Homo sapiens: one gene and its partners. The protein of the gene in region 3 interacts with the protein of the main gene of each other region in a pairwise test. Each region holds a gene or a part of one and is shown on either strand. Other genes may lie near its edges. The genes, in order: FAM118B, NUDT3 and ITFG1.

The links.
Region 1: the proteins of ITFG1 (region 3) and FAM118B interact in a two-hybrid assay, tested with the Homo sapiens proteins (one large-scale study listed by BioGRID and IntAct).
Region 2: the proteins of ITFG1 (region 3) and NUDT3 interact in a two-hybrid assay, tested with the Homo sapiens proteins (one large-scale study listed by BioGRID and IntAct).

The regions. Positions count from the first base shown.
Region 1 is NC_000011.10:126,239,218-126,242,942, forward strand, and holds part of FAM118B (protein FAM118B), read left to right. Parts: intron 1-1,574; coding exon 1,575-1,827; intron 1,828-3,725. UniProt on the Homo sapiens protein: May play a role in Cajal bodies formation.
Region 2 is NC_000006.12:34,389,870-34,393,836, reverse strand, and holds the start of NUDT3 (diphosphoinositol polyphosphate phosphohydrolase 1), read left to right. Parts: upstream 1-1,167; 5' UTR 1,168-1,474; coding exon 1,475-1,573; intron 1,574-3,967. UniProt on the Homo sapiens protein: Cleaves a beta-phosphate from the diphosphate groups in PP-InsP5 (diphosphoinositol pentakisphosphate) and [PP]2-InsP4 (bisdiphosphoinositol tetrakisphosphate), suggesting that it may play a role in signal transduction.
Region 3 is NC_000016.10:47,454,339-47,458,063, reverse strand, and holds part of ITFG1 (T-cell immunomodulatory protein isoform 1 precursor), read left to right. Parts: intron 1-3,725. UniProt on the Homo sapiens protein: Modulator of T-cell function. Has a protective effect in graft versus host disease model.

The DNA of each region.
Region 1 (3,725 bases), on a different chromosome or scaffold from region 3:
CTCCTAAAGTGCTGAGATTACAGGCATGAACCACTGCACTTAGCCAAATTGGAAGTCTTAATTAGGAAGAATTATAGTTCAAATCTGTATGTTATATAAAAAAATACAGTACAACAGTATAAAATGAAAAGTAAAAAGTCCTTATTCTCTGCTATCCCCATTTAACCACTATTTATACATCTTGTGAATCCTAGAAATTTTCTATGTGTGTGTATATTTGTTTATGTGGATTTGTGTATGCTTCACTATCTTGATTGCTCTGAACTGAAACTCATTTTTCATCATTTGCTTCTAACATCTATTATTAATGTCTTTTCTAGTAGACTGATCTTTCAAGATCAGGGACTCCATTTTGTTCATGGATACATGACTCCCGTAGTGTCTGGTACATACAGGTTTTCCTTTCCTGCCTCAGCCTCCCTAGTAGCTGGGACTACAGGTGTGCGCCACCAGACCCAGCTAATTTTTGTATTTTTAGTAGACACAGAGTTTCACCATGTTGGCCAGGCTGGTCTTGAACTCCTGACCTCAAGTAATCAGCCCACCTTGGCCCCCCAAAGTGCTGGGATTACAGGCGTGAGCCACTGCTCCTGGCCTCGGTTTTTCATATTTGTTGAATGACTGAATGCAGAAGCTCGGGTTAGGGAAAGCAGTTTTAGAGGCTGTGTCCCCAAAACCAGGTTTCCCAAGGCTTGAAAGTGCTATTCCTTTCTTGAGTTATGCCAAAATGCTGATCCTCTCCATTTTATTATTTAGACAAAAAGGTTGGGGAGAAGCCATTTTCAGGGGAGGGGAACATGCCATCAGCAAAAATTAATGTGAAGGAACATATTTCAAGCAGGGATAGTCTCCAGAATGAAAGAGAGGGGAACAAAAACAAAAATTAGCACCCATGCTGTCTCACATATGGGCCTCAGAACAGAGAAGTCTGTCTCTGCTTATCATGGTAAGAAAGGAATGTTTTTCACTTTTTGTCATGTCCTTTGATTAGTTAATGTCTTTATTTAGGTATGTAGGGCCCCTGTGTTTTCAGAATTCTATTGGCCACTTTTTTTTTCTTTTTTTTTTTTGCCTGAGGTTAATGTTTACAAAATTCAGAATTAAATTTTGTATTGCCTTTCCCCTAGTGTTTTACATTTCTCAATAATAGGAACTTAATTTGTCCTGGGGTTCTTTTCTCTTTTTCTAGAGTACAAATCAAACGTCTTCTTTTGAAATTTAATACTGGTTTAAAATATAATTTAGTTGGCAGAAGTCAGCTGAGCTATAGTCTATTTGGATCTTTTCCTAATATTAGTGGAATTTCTTAGGTTGAGAGGACTAGGAAGGGAAAACTGATTTTAAGATTGGTTTTGGGATTCCTGAAATAGGTTTATGACTTGTTTTTCAGCAAGCACTGACACAATATTCTGGTTGTTTTCTTTAAACTGCTTTGGAAAGGTGTCAAAAACTGCTGTTCATCTTCTTTGCAACTATAAAAGTTAGCTAAAAACTGTAACCTGAGTCAGACAGTCTTTCTGTGTGCCTCATATCTATTGGATATTCCAATCCTCTCATTTGTTTTGCTTTTATAGGAAGCTGCTTCCAAGCTTAAAAACTAAGAAGCCTCGAGAACTTGTGCTAGTGATTGGAACAGGCATTAGTGCTGCAGTTGCGCCCCAAGTTCCAGCCCTCAAATCCTGGAAGGGGTTAATTCAGGCCTTACTGGATGCTGCCATTGATTTTGATCTTTTAGAAGATGAGGAGAGCAAAAAGTTTCAGAAATGTCTCCATGAAGACAAGAACCTGGTCCATGTTGCCCATGACCTTATCCAGAAACTCTCTCCTGTGAGTACCCTAGTATGTGCCACAGTATTTGGAATTTCCTAAAATTTAACTATCACAACTAGCATGATTTGGCTGTCAAAACTAGCATGCCAAATGTAACAGGGATATTCATTTACAGCTTGTAGGTTTCCATAACATTTGACTCTTCTGCGCAATGTCTGTTTATGGACCCTACTCAGGACAGTTGTCTTAACCCCATTTCACTGTGTGTCTATGAGAGAGAAATGATGTTGAGGACTTTATATGTACAAATTACCACTGTGTTTTGAATTTATTTTTTTCCTGCATCACTACTATAAAAGCTGTGTTCTGTGGCATCCATGCCTTGTATGGAATCCCACAAAGATTGGAGATAATTTTATCATTTTATACATGAAACAAAACCAGTTTTTAGTGTTCTTTTTAGAGGTAATAAGTCAAAATATTTAGAAGGAATTGCACCTTATTTTACCAAACTGAGTTGGATAAAAGGACTCCCTGTCTTGCTTTGTCTGAAAATTTATTTATTTATTTATTTATTTTTTGATGGAATCTTCTTCTTGTCACCCAGGCTGAAGTTCAGTGGTTCGATCTCGCCTCATGGCAGCCTCCGCCTCCTGGGTTCAAGCGATTCTCCTGTCTCAGCCTCCTGAGTAGGTGGGATTACAGGCATGTGCCACCATGCCCAGCTAATTTTTGTATTTTTAGTAGAGACAGGGTTTTGCCATGTTGGTCAAGCTGGTCTCGAACTTCTGACCTCAAGTGATCTGCCCACCTCAGCCTCACAAAGTGCTGGGATTATAGGCATGAGCCACTGCACCCAGCCTGTTTTAAAATCTTAAAAATCAGGCTTCTAGGGCCAGGCGTGGTGGGCACCTGTAATCCCAGCTGCTCAGGAGGCTGAGGCAGGAGAATGGCTTGAACCCGGGAGGTGGAGGTTGCACTGAGTTGCGGTCGCGCCACTGCACTCCAGCCTGGGCGACAGAGGAAGACTCCGTCTCAAAAAAAAAAAAAAAAAAAGGAATTAATGGGGTTTTAAAGAGTTCATGGAATCTCCATACACTTTATAAAAATTAAAAATGGATCAAAGACCTAAATATGATACCTAAAACTGTAAAACTCTTAGAAGAAAATACAGATTTAAAATTTCATGACTGGATCTGGCAGTGGTTTTTTAGACATGACACCAAAAATGCAAAAAACTAAAGTAAAAAAAAATATAGATAAACTGGACTTCTCCAAAGTTAAAAACTGTTAGGCTGAAAGGACACTGTCAAGAAAGTGAGCCGGGGATGGTGGCTCATGCCTATAATCCCAGAACTTTGGGAGGCCAAGGCAGGAGAACTGCTTGAGGGCATGAGTTCAAGACCAGCCTGGACAACATAGTGAGACCCTGTCTCTACCAAAAGAAAAAAAAAAGTGAAAAGACAGCTTCCAGAATGAGAAAATGTTAGCAAATCACATATCTCATAGGCGTATAATATCCAGAATCTATAAAGAACTACTGTAACTTAATAAAGGCTAATAATTCAATTTTAAAATAACGATGTAGTTGAATAGACATTTCTCCAAAGAAGATACACAAACGGCCAATAAGTGCATACGAAAAGATGTTCAGCGTCATTAGTCATTAGGAAAATACAAATCAAAACCACAACAAGGTGCCATTTCACACCCGCTGGCATGACTAGAATCAAGAAGACAATAATAAGTGTTATTAAGGATGTGGAGAAATTGGAACCTTTGTGGGAATGTAAAGTGATGCAGTTGCTTTGGAAAACAGATTGGCAGTTCCTCAAAAAGTTGAACAGTGATTCTATGAACCAGCAACTGCACTCATAAGTATATACCTAAGCGAATGGAAAGCATATTCATGCAGCAACTGTACACTCATGTTCATAGCAACGTTATTCATAATA
Region 2 (3,967 bases), on a different chromosome or scaffold from region 3:
AAATATGATGTAATCGGGTGGTATGAGCATTAAAAAAAATGTAATTGAGGTTACAACCAAGGTGTATTTGCTTTCAAATCCAGATCTTTTTGACTATGCTAAATACAAGCAAATTCAAAAAGGGGAATTAGCCGGCTGCTGTGGCTCACACCAGTAATCCCAGTGCTTTGGGAGGCCGAGGGTGGATAGCTTCGAGGCCAGGAATTCCGGACCAGCCCGGGCAACAAAATGTTAAATAAAAAAATTTTAAAAAATTAAATAAAAAAATTTAAAAAACAAAAAAGGGTATTAAACAACTCACAGACAGATACTGCACAGGATTTTTGGTACGTTTAGGGCATCTGCATGGTACTTGGTTTGTTCTGGGTTGCTGAGAACATTCACAGGTCATACACCAGTTTTCCTTTCTGGAGAGCTTCTGTCTGTATATCTTTTCCTGGAGAATCTGTTTGACATCCACAACACACACTCCTCATTTATTGCCAGAAACGATGATGTTTTATGATTTACATTATGTGTGTACACACGCACGCACGCGCGCGTGTTCCTTTCTGGCCCTCTTGTTTACCATAAGAGGAAGCAATTACCTTTAGCATCAATAAAAGATTGCAGAATAAATATTTGTTCTTTGTAATGGGCGACATGCACCAGCCCCTAAGACATCCTGAGGTTCAGGCTATCAACGCAAAGTGCACACGCCTCCCATGCGCCGTTTCCTTGCAGTTCCAAATCCCAGATGTCTCAGGCTGCAGCTTCCGTTGCCTTTAACTACATCCTCCTTTTTCCAACAAACCTTCCCCCTCAACCCCTTCGAGACCGACCGGCAGGGCCCAGGGGCGGGTGGCGTGACCTTGGTTCATCCTCGGCCGCGGAGACGCGGCGTGACCTTGGCCAAGTCCCCGCTTCCCCATCCGCAGACTTGCGCGGCTGGACCGCTCGGTCTCCGCTCCGGCCGCTAGGCGTCCTGCGCCGCTGTTCTTATCTCCCCCGGCTTCCTCCGCGCACCCCACCAGTTCTACGCCTACGCTGCCGGCGTAGCGGTCGCCTGGAGTCGCGCGTCCCTCTCCTTTCAGATGCTGGTTTCCACCGCGCGAACTGGGAGGGCGCGATTCGCGAACGCGGCCTGCGCTGCGAGCGCGCGGCCGTCCCGCAGGCCGGTGCAGCCTTACGCCGCTGACGCATCGCGCCCAAGATGGCGGCGCGGTCGTCGTCGGGGGTGGCGGCGGCAGAGGGGGCGGCGGCCCTGGCGGCAGCGGAGACGGCAGCCGTGACGGTGGCAGCGGCGGCGCGGGACCTGGGCCTGGGGGAATGAGGCGGCCGCGGCGGGCCAGCGGCGGAGCCGTGTAGCGGAGAAGCTCCCCCTCCCTGCTTCCCTTGGCCGAGCCGGGGGCGCGCGCGCACGCGGCCGTCCAGAGCGGGCTCCCCACCCCTCGACTCCTGCGACCCGCACCGCACCCCCACCCGGGCCCGGAGGATGATGAAGCTCAAGTCGAACCAGACCCGCACCTACGACGGCGACGGCTACAAGAAGCGGGCCGCATGCCTGTGTTTCCGCAGCGAGAGCGAGGAGGAGGTGAGGCGGCAGGCTGGGCGGGCCGGGGTCGCCGGGTCTCCGGCCCCTTCGGGTGGAGGCGCGAGGGGCGCGGCCGCCGGAGGAGGGTGTGCCAGGGCCGCCCCGCTCGGGCGGAATGAAGTTCCGATGGAATTTCCTGAGGCGAAAAAAGGGGGAAGGAGAAAGGACGTTGGGGCTGAGGGGAAGCGGGTTTGAGTGCGGCTGCACAGGGCGCGCCGGGCGGAGGGGGTAGCCGGCTTGTGGCCGGAGCGCTTCGGTTCCGCCGCCTGTTACCGGGGAGAGCGGCCGCGGGAGAAGGCAGTGGGCTGGGAAGAGTGCGGCTTTCGGTCCAGGCCAACGGCTTTGATCCTGGAAGGGCCGCTCCGCAGTTGTCAGCCAGGCACATGTGTGCGGAGGCCGGCGTGCACGAGGCGCGGGCCGGCCTTTGTGGCAGAGAAATAGTGCACTTCATTGGCAGGTTTGGGGTTTGCCGAGGGATTATATGTCTGTGAGCCCAAAGCTGAGGGGTGGGGGTGGGGTGTCTTCGGAAGATTTAGGGCGTTGTGCATAAGCCATAGCCAGCTGTTTATTTTACAGTGCGCTGGGTAGCCTTTATGGTGTAGTCTGAGAAGAAAAGACATTTGATATAATAATCTTTGTGTGCTGAAAATGTTTCATGTTAATTGGGAAGACCAAAAGCGGTATTTAACATTTTTGCCCTGACGTTCCTCCACTGCCTTGTGGGAAGACTCTTAGGATTAAATTAGCTAGGAAAATAATGTTTTAGAATCAGTTTCTTTTTATAATAGGTAGGGTACTTTAAAAAAAAATCTCGGCTTCCCAAAGCCGTTTCTGTGGTGATGAAGGGAATTCAGAGAAGCACATGTTTTGTAAATCCACAAAAGAGTAGCTGCTTTGGAAATTCATAAGATGCCTGTGGGAATGCATTTCTCGTGTGCATGGTGGTAAAATGGCAGTTAAACTGGAAACAATGAAGGACAGTGAAATCCAATATGTTATATTGGATTCAGCAGTGGGCTATGGTGGCAGGGCCGCAGTACAGTGCAGTGTCGAAATGGGGAAAGGAACTTGACCCGTTAGTTATGAAAAGAAGCTGTGGCGAAAGAGACAGATGGATTGCCAGGAGTTGCTGTCCAGAGGTATTTAGGAGGAAGTGGGAATTTGAATTACTGCCTGAAGAAAATTAGTTAGTGAATTGTGTTGTTAAGGGATCCCATGTGTGCTCCCTTTCAGCAAAACAGAACGAAAGGAGATTTGGAAACGTATGCTTTGTATCCTACCATATATTGTAAAAGTCCCCAAAACAGATGCATTGTAATAGCTAACCAGGGCCATGCTGTAAATTATATACTGTTTTGGAATGCATATTTGAGTAAAGTAAAATTATTGGTGGTGCTTATTGCTCCAGAGCCTTTATTCTCCTCATTATCATATCATGTTATGGGAAATCAGATGGGATCACAGGCTCTTAACTGAAGGGAAAACTAATTAGCATAATAGCATGTCTTACTACACTAGTATGCATAAATCTGTGAGCACCCCAATTATAAGTATAATTTAGTTGTACGAATGATGCAAGACTGTTTGTTTTAAAAAAATCACACCAGGCCGGGCGTGGTGGCTCACGCCTGTAATCCTAGCACTTCAGGAGACCAAGGTGGTGAGGCCAAGAGTTCGAGACCAACCTGGCCAACACAGATCCCCATCTCTAAATATAAAAAAAAATAATAATAATAAATCATACTAGAAATAGAAAATGTATTTTTGATAAATTGAAAACTATAGATCATAAGCAAACTAGCAACGGCTTAATTTTCCATTTTCTGTTAAATGTTTTGTTATGCACTGACATTAGCAACATTAATGTTGAAAGCTTACTTGTCTGTTTAGGCTACCTCACGGCATCTCACAAGTCAGACCAGGCATAGGACTTGCCTTCTAGGAGCTTACTTTTTTTCTTTTTTTTTTTTGAGACCGACTCTTGCTATGTCGCCCAGGCTGGAGTGCAGTGGCCCCATCTTGGCTCACTGCAACCTCTGCCTCCCAGGTTCAGGCGATTCTAGGAGCTTGCATTTTTATTTTTAAAATTTTATTTATTTACTTATTTTTATTTATTTATTTATTTTGAGACGGAGTCTCGCTCTTTCGCCCAGGCTGGAGTGCAGTGGCGTGATCTCGGCTCATTGCAACCTCCACCTCCCGGGTTCAAGCTGTTCTCCCTGCCTCAGCCTCCCGAGTAGCTGGGATTACAGGCACCTGCCATAATGCTTGGCTAGTTTTCTGTATTTTTTTTTTTTTTTGAGACAGAGTCTTGCTCTGTCGCCCATGGTGGAGTGCAGTGGCACCATCTCGGCTCACTGCAAGCTCCGCCTCCCGGATTCACGCCATTCTCCT
Region 3 (3,725 bases):
AAGACTACTTAGGAAGCTGTATTTAAAAAGTCCCTGTGTGGGCTGATTAGTTCTCAGACTCTACAGTATTTTGAGTAAACTCAAACTCATGTTAAAAAGAAAAATGGCCTTGAACTAGAACTTTGAGGGGAAAGTTATAAATGGATAAACAGGAACTTATTTCCCTTGAGAAGTGTTTTTGGGTAGTGAATGTCAGCATGCTTGGAGTGGGGAAGAAACTGAAGTTGAGTGTATATGAGAAGTGAACTAACTGCATAGAGGTGATTTTTTTTTTATTAGAAATTAAGGAAATTTAAAAGATGTAAATGGCATGTGTTCTGATAAGTTAAAACAAATATCCCAATTAATTTTTTTATTAATGCAATGCACTTTCAAAATTTAGAAACTCTTGTTTGTGTTATAATTTAAAATATTTTTCAAAGTAAAAATAACTATTCTTCACCCTTATTCTCCCCCACACCCCTGTTTCTCTCTCAGATGCAACCACTTTTAAAACCTGTAGCTGATTCTTCTAGTGTTTATTACCATATTTTAAAATAAAATTTTACACTAATTTTCTTGAATTATCATTTTTAAATATTCAATTCTTGTTTTTTAACTAACATAATTTATCTACATTGTCCCAGTGTAATTAAATCATAATTTTTTGTTAAATTAGTAATCATTGTTTACCTTTTAACCATGTGGTGTCTATGTACTTCAGAACCAAGTAATGTACAGTATTTCTTTTCTTTTTCTTTTTTTTTTTTTCTTGAGACAGAGTCTCACTCTGTTGCCCAGGCTGGAGTGCCTTGGCATCATCTCAGCTCACTGCAACCTTTGCCTCCCGGGTTCAAGCTATTCTCCCACCTCAGTCTCCCAAGTAGCTGGGATTACAGGTGCCTGCCACCATGCCTAGCTAATTTTTTGTATTTTTAGTAGAGATGGGATTTCACCATGTTGGCCAGGCTGGTCTCGAGCTCCCGACCTCAGGTGATCCACCTGCCTCGGCCTCCCAAAGTGCTGGGACAGTATTTCATTTTTTGTGCAGCTTGCCCTACTGGAATAAATGATTGCTTTTTAAAAAATAGATTGCATAGTTTTCTATGTACATACCCTTAATTTCTTTGCAGATATTCCATCATATCTGCCATATACCTATCCTGCATTTTTGTTTTTCCCATTGGATCCTCTACATTCCTATCCAGTCTGGATTCATTCTCCAGGCCTTTTGTAGACTTACTATGTGGGGAATTTCCCCATGTAAAAAAAGAAATTTCCTCATTTACTTCACGGGGGTGTGTCTTTCCAGAAATTCCTGAGAAAGGATGCCTGATAAGTCCTGTCACATCCAAAAAGTTTTTCTACCCACTTTTTTTTTTTTTTTTTTTTAGAGACAGAGTCTCACTCTGTTTCCCAGGCTGGAGTGCAGTGGCACAAGCTCAGCTCACTGGAACCTCCACCTCCCTGGTTCTAGCAATTCTCCTGCCTCAGCCTCCTGAGTAGCTGGGACTACAGGTGCACAACGCCACGCCCAGCGAATTTTGTAGTATTTTAGTAGAGACAGGGTTTCACCGTGTTGCCCGGGCTGGTGTCAAAACTCCTGAGCTCAGGCAATCCACCTGCCTTGGCCTCCCAAAGTGCTAGGATTGTAGGCATGAGCCACCGCGCCCGGCATCTACCCACTCTTAAAAGTTTGGTTAGCTTATTGTGTTCTAGCTTCATGGGTTGCAGTTTTAAAATTCAACCCTCTTCTTTCTCCTAATCTTTTAAATGTAAATTGTTTTAATTTTGGAAGCTATTGGAGTCTCTTCTTTTTCTATTTTGTTCTGATTTCATGATGATGTGCCTTGGTATAGATTTGTTTTTCTTTTTTGATAAAGACAGGGTCTTTCTCTATCACCCAGGTGAAAAAGGAGTGCAGTCACACAGTCATAGCTCACTGTAGGCACCTAATCCTGGGCTCAAGCTGTCCTCCCACCTTCGCCTCCCAAAGTGCTGCAATTACAGGAATGATTATTCTTTACTTATTATGCTAGGCATTATGTGGGCCCTTTCAAGCTAGAGGCCTCTATCCTTGGGAGCTTTTTGAAATACTCTTACATTATTAAATATTTCTTTGAAAAATTTTTTTGTCTCTTTTAGGAGTTTCTATCAGTTGATTAGTCTGCCTGGGTTCATCCTTTATTCCTTTATCTTATCTGTTTCTTATTTTTATCATTTAGTTTTGTTTTATTTTCCTTTGCAGGAGGTTTTCTCAACTTTCTCTTTTAAATTCTAAGTCCTTTTTTTTTTTTTTTTTTTTTTGGTGGGGGATGGAGTCTTGCTCTGTTGCCCAGGCTAGATAGAGTGCAATGGTCCAATCTTGGCTCACTGCAATCTCCACCTCCTGGGTTCAAGCGATTCTCCTGCCTCAACCTCCCAAGTAGCTGGGATTAGAGATGCACGCCACCACGCCTGGCTACTTTTTGTATTTTTAATAGTGACAGGGTTTTGCAATGTTGGCCAGGCTGGTCTCAAATTCCTGACCTCAAGTGATCCACCCACCTCCACCTCCACCTCCCAAAGTGCTGGGATTACAGGCGTGAACCACCGCGCCCAGCCAGGTGTCACATTTTTAATTTCCGAGGTTTTTCTTTTGTTTTCTTACTGATGTTGTCTTTTAGCATACTGTTGTTGGTTTGTTTTTTTTTTTATAGACAGACTTTTTTCTCTTAAGTGTAATTTTGAAGTTTTCTTTTGTTGCATTAGTTCTGTTTTCTTCAGGTTCCTTATTGCTATTTGTTTTAGCTCTCTTTAATAGTCAAAGTTTTCTTCAGAAGGCAGGTGTCTACTCACATTTTCAAGTAAGGTGCAAAAGAAATAATTGGAAATGTATTGCCTAGTGGGACTAGTCTACTATCTTTTGCCCTGCATGTATGTTCTTGACAGACTAACATTCTAGAAATAGGGTAGAGCTGTGGGCAAGGGTTAAATTGTTCCTTTTGTAGACTTTTGGTTAACTCCTGTGTCTAGCTTAAGGCCAAAACCTTACCCATTACTGTAATTTAAATCCTTAATTCCTGAGACTTTCCAGAAATACACCACTTGGTTCTTACCTTGCTGAGTGAGAGGGAGAAAGAACTACCACTGATGCATTAAGAAAGTAATTATCTATAGTCTAATTGGAAATTTGCTGTCTTGCTATTTCATCTGAGTAGAATTAAGTATAAAATGAATTAAAGGCCTAATTTTTGCTTGGGTCGCTCAGATAATAAGACTGCAGGACGTTAAGCTTTCAAGATTCATATAAATAATTTTAGAATTATTTTGTTAATAAAAATATATCAATACCTATGAAAAGGAAAAAATAAAAATATACATATAAAGTTAGATATATATGTTTGGATGCTATATTGATTGCCAAGTTTCGTTAAAAAAAATTCCATTCTTAATTTACTAGCTTTCAGAAATAAAATGATTCTTTTAATTTTTACTGTAAATTTTGAATTTATGTTAAAATCCAAACTAAATATTTTATAAATAATATCTTTTAATTGAAAACATCCCAGTGATAATGCTTACTGCTTTGGCAATTATGAGCCTCCATTTGTTAGAAACACCATCCGAATGTCTTGGTGTCCTTGACAAAGGAACTATATAGAAGGGCTATACTAGCCATTGCTTGAACATAATAAACACGTTTTCTCTCGACATATTTCAGATTTGTCTTGTTTCTTGAGACTATTCTGCATTCATTCTGAACT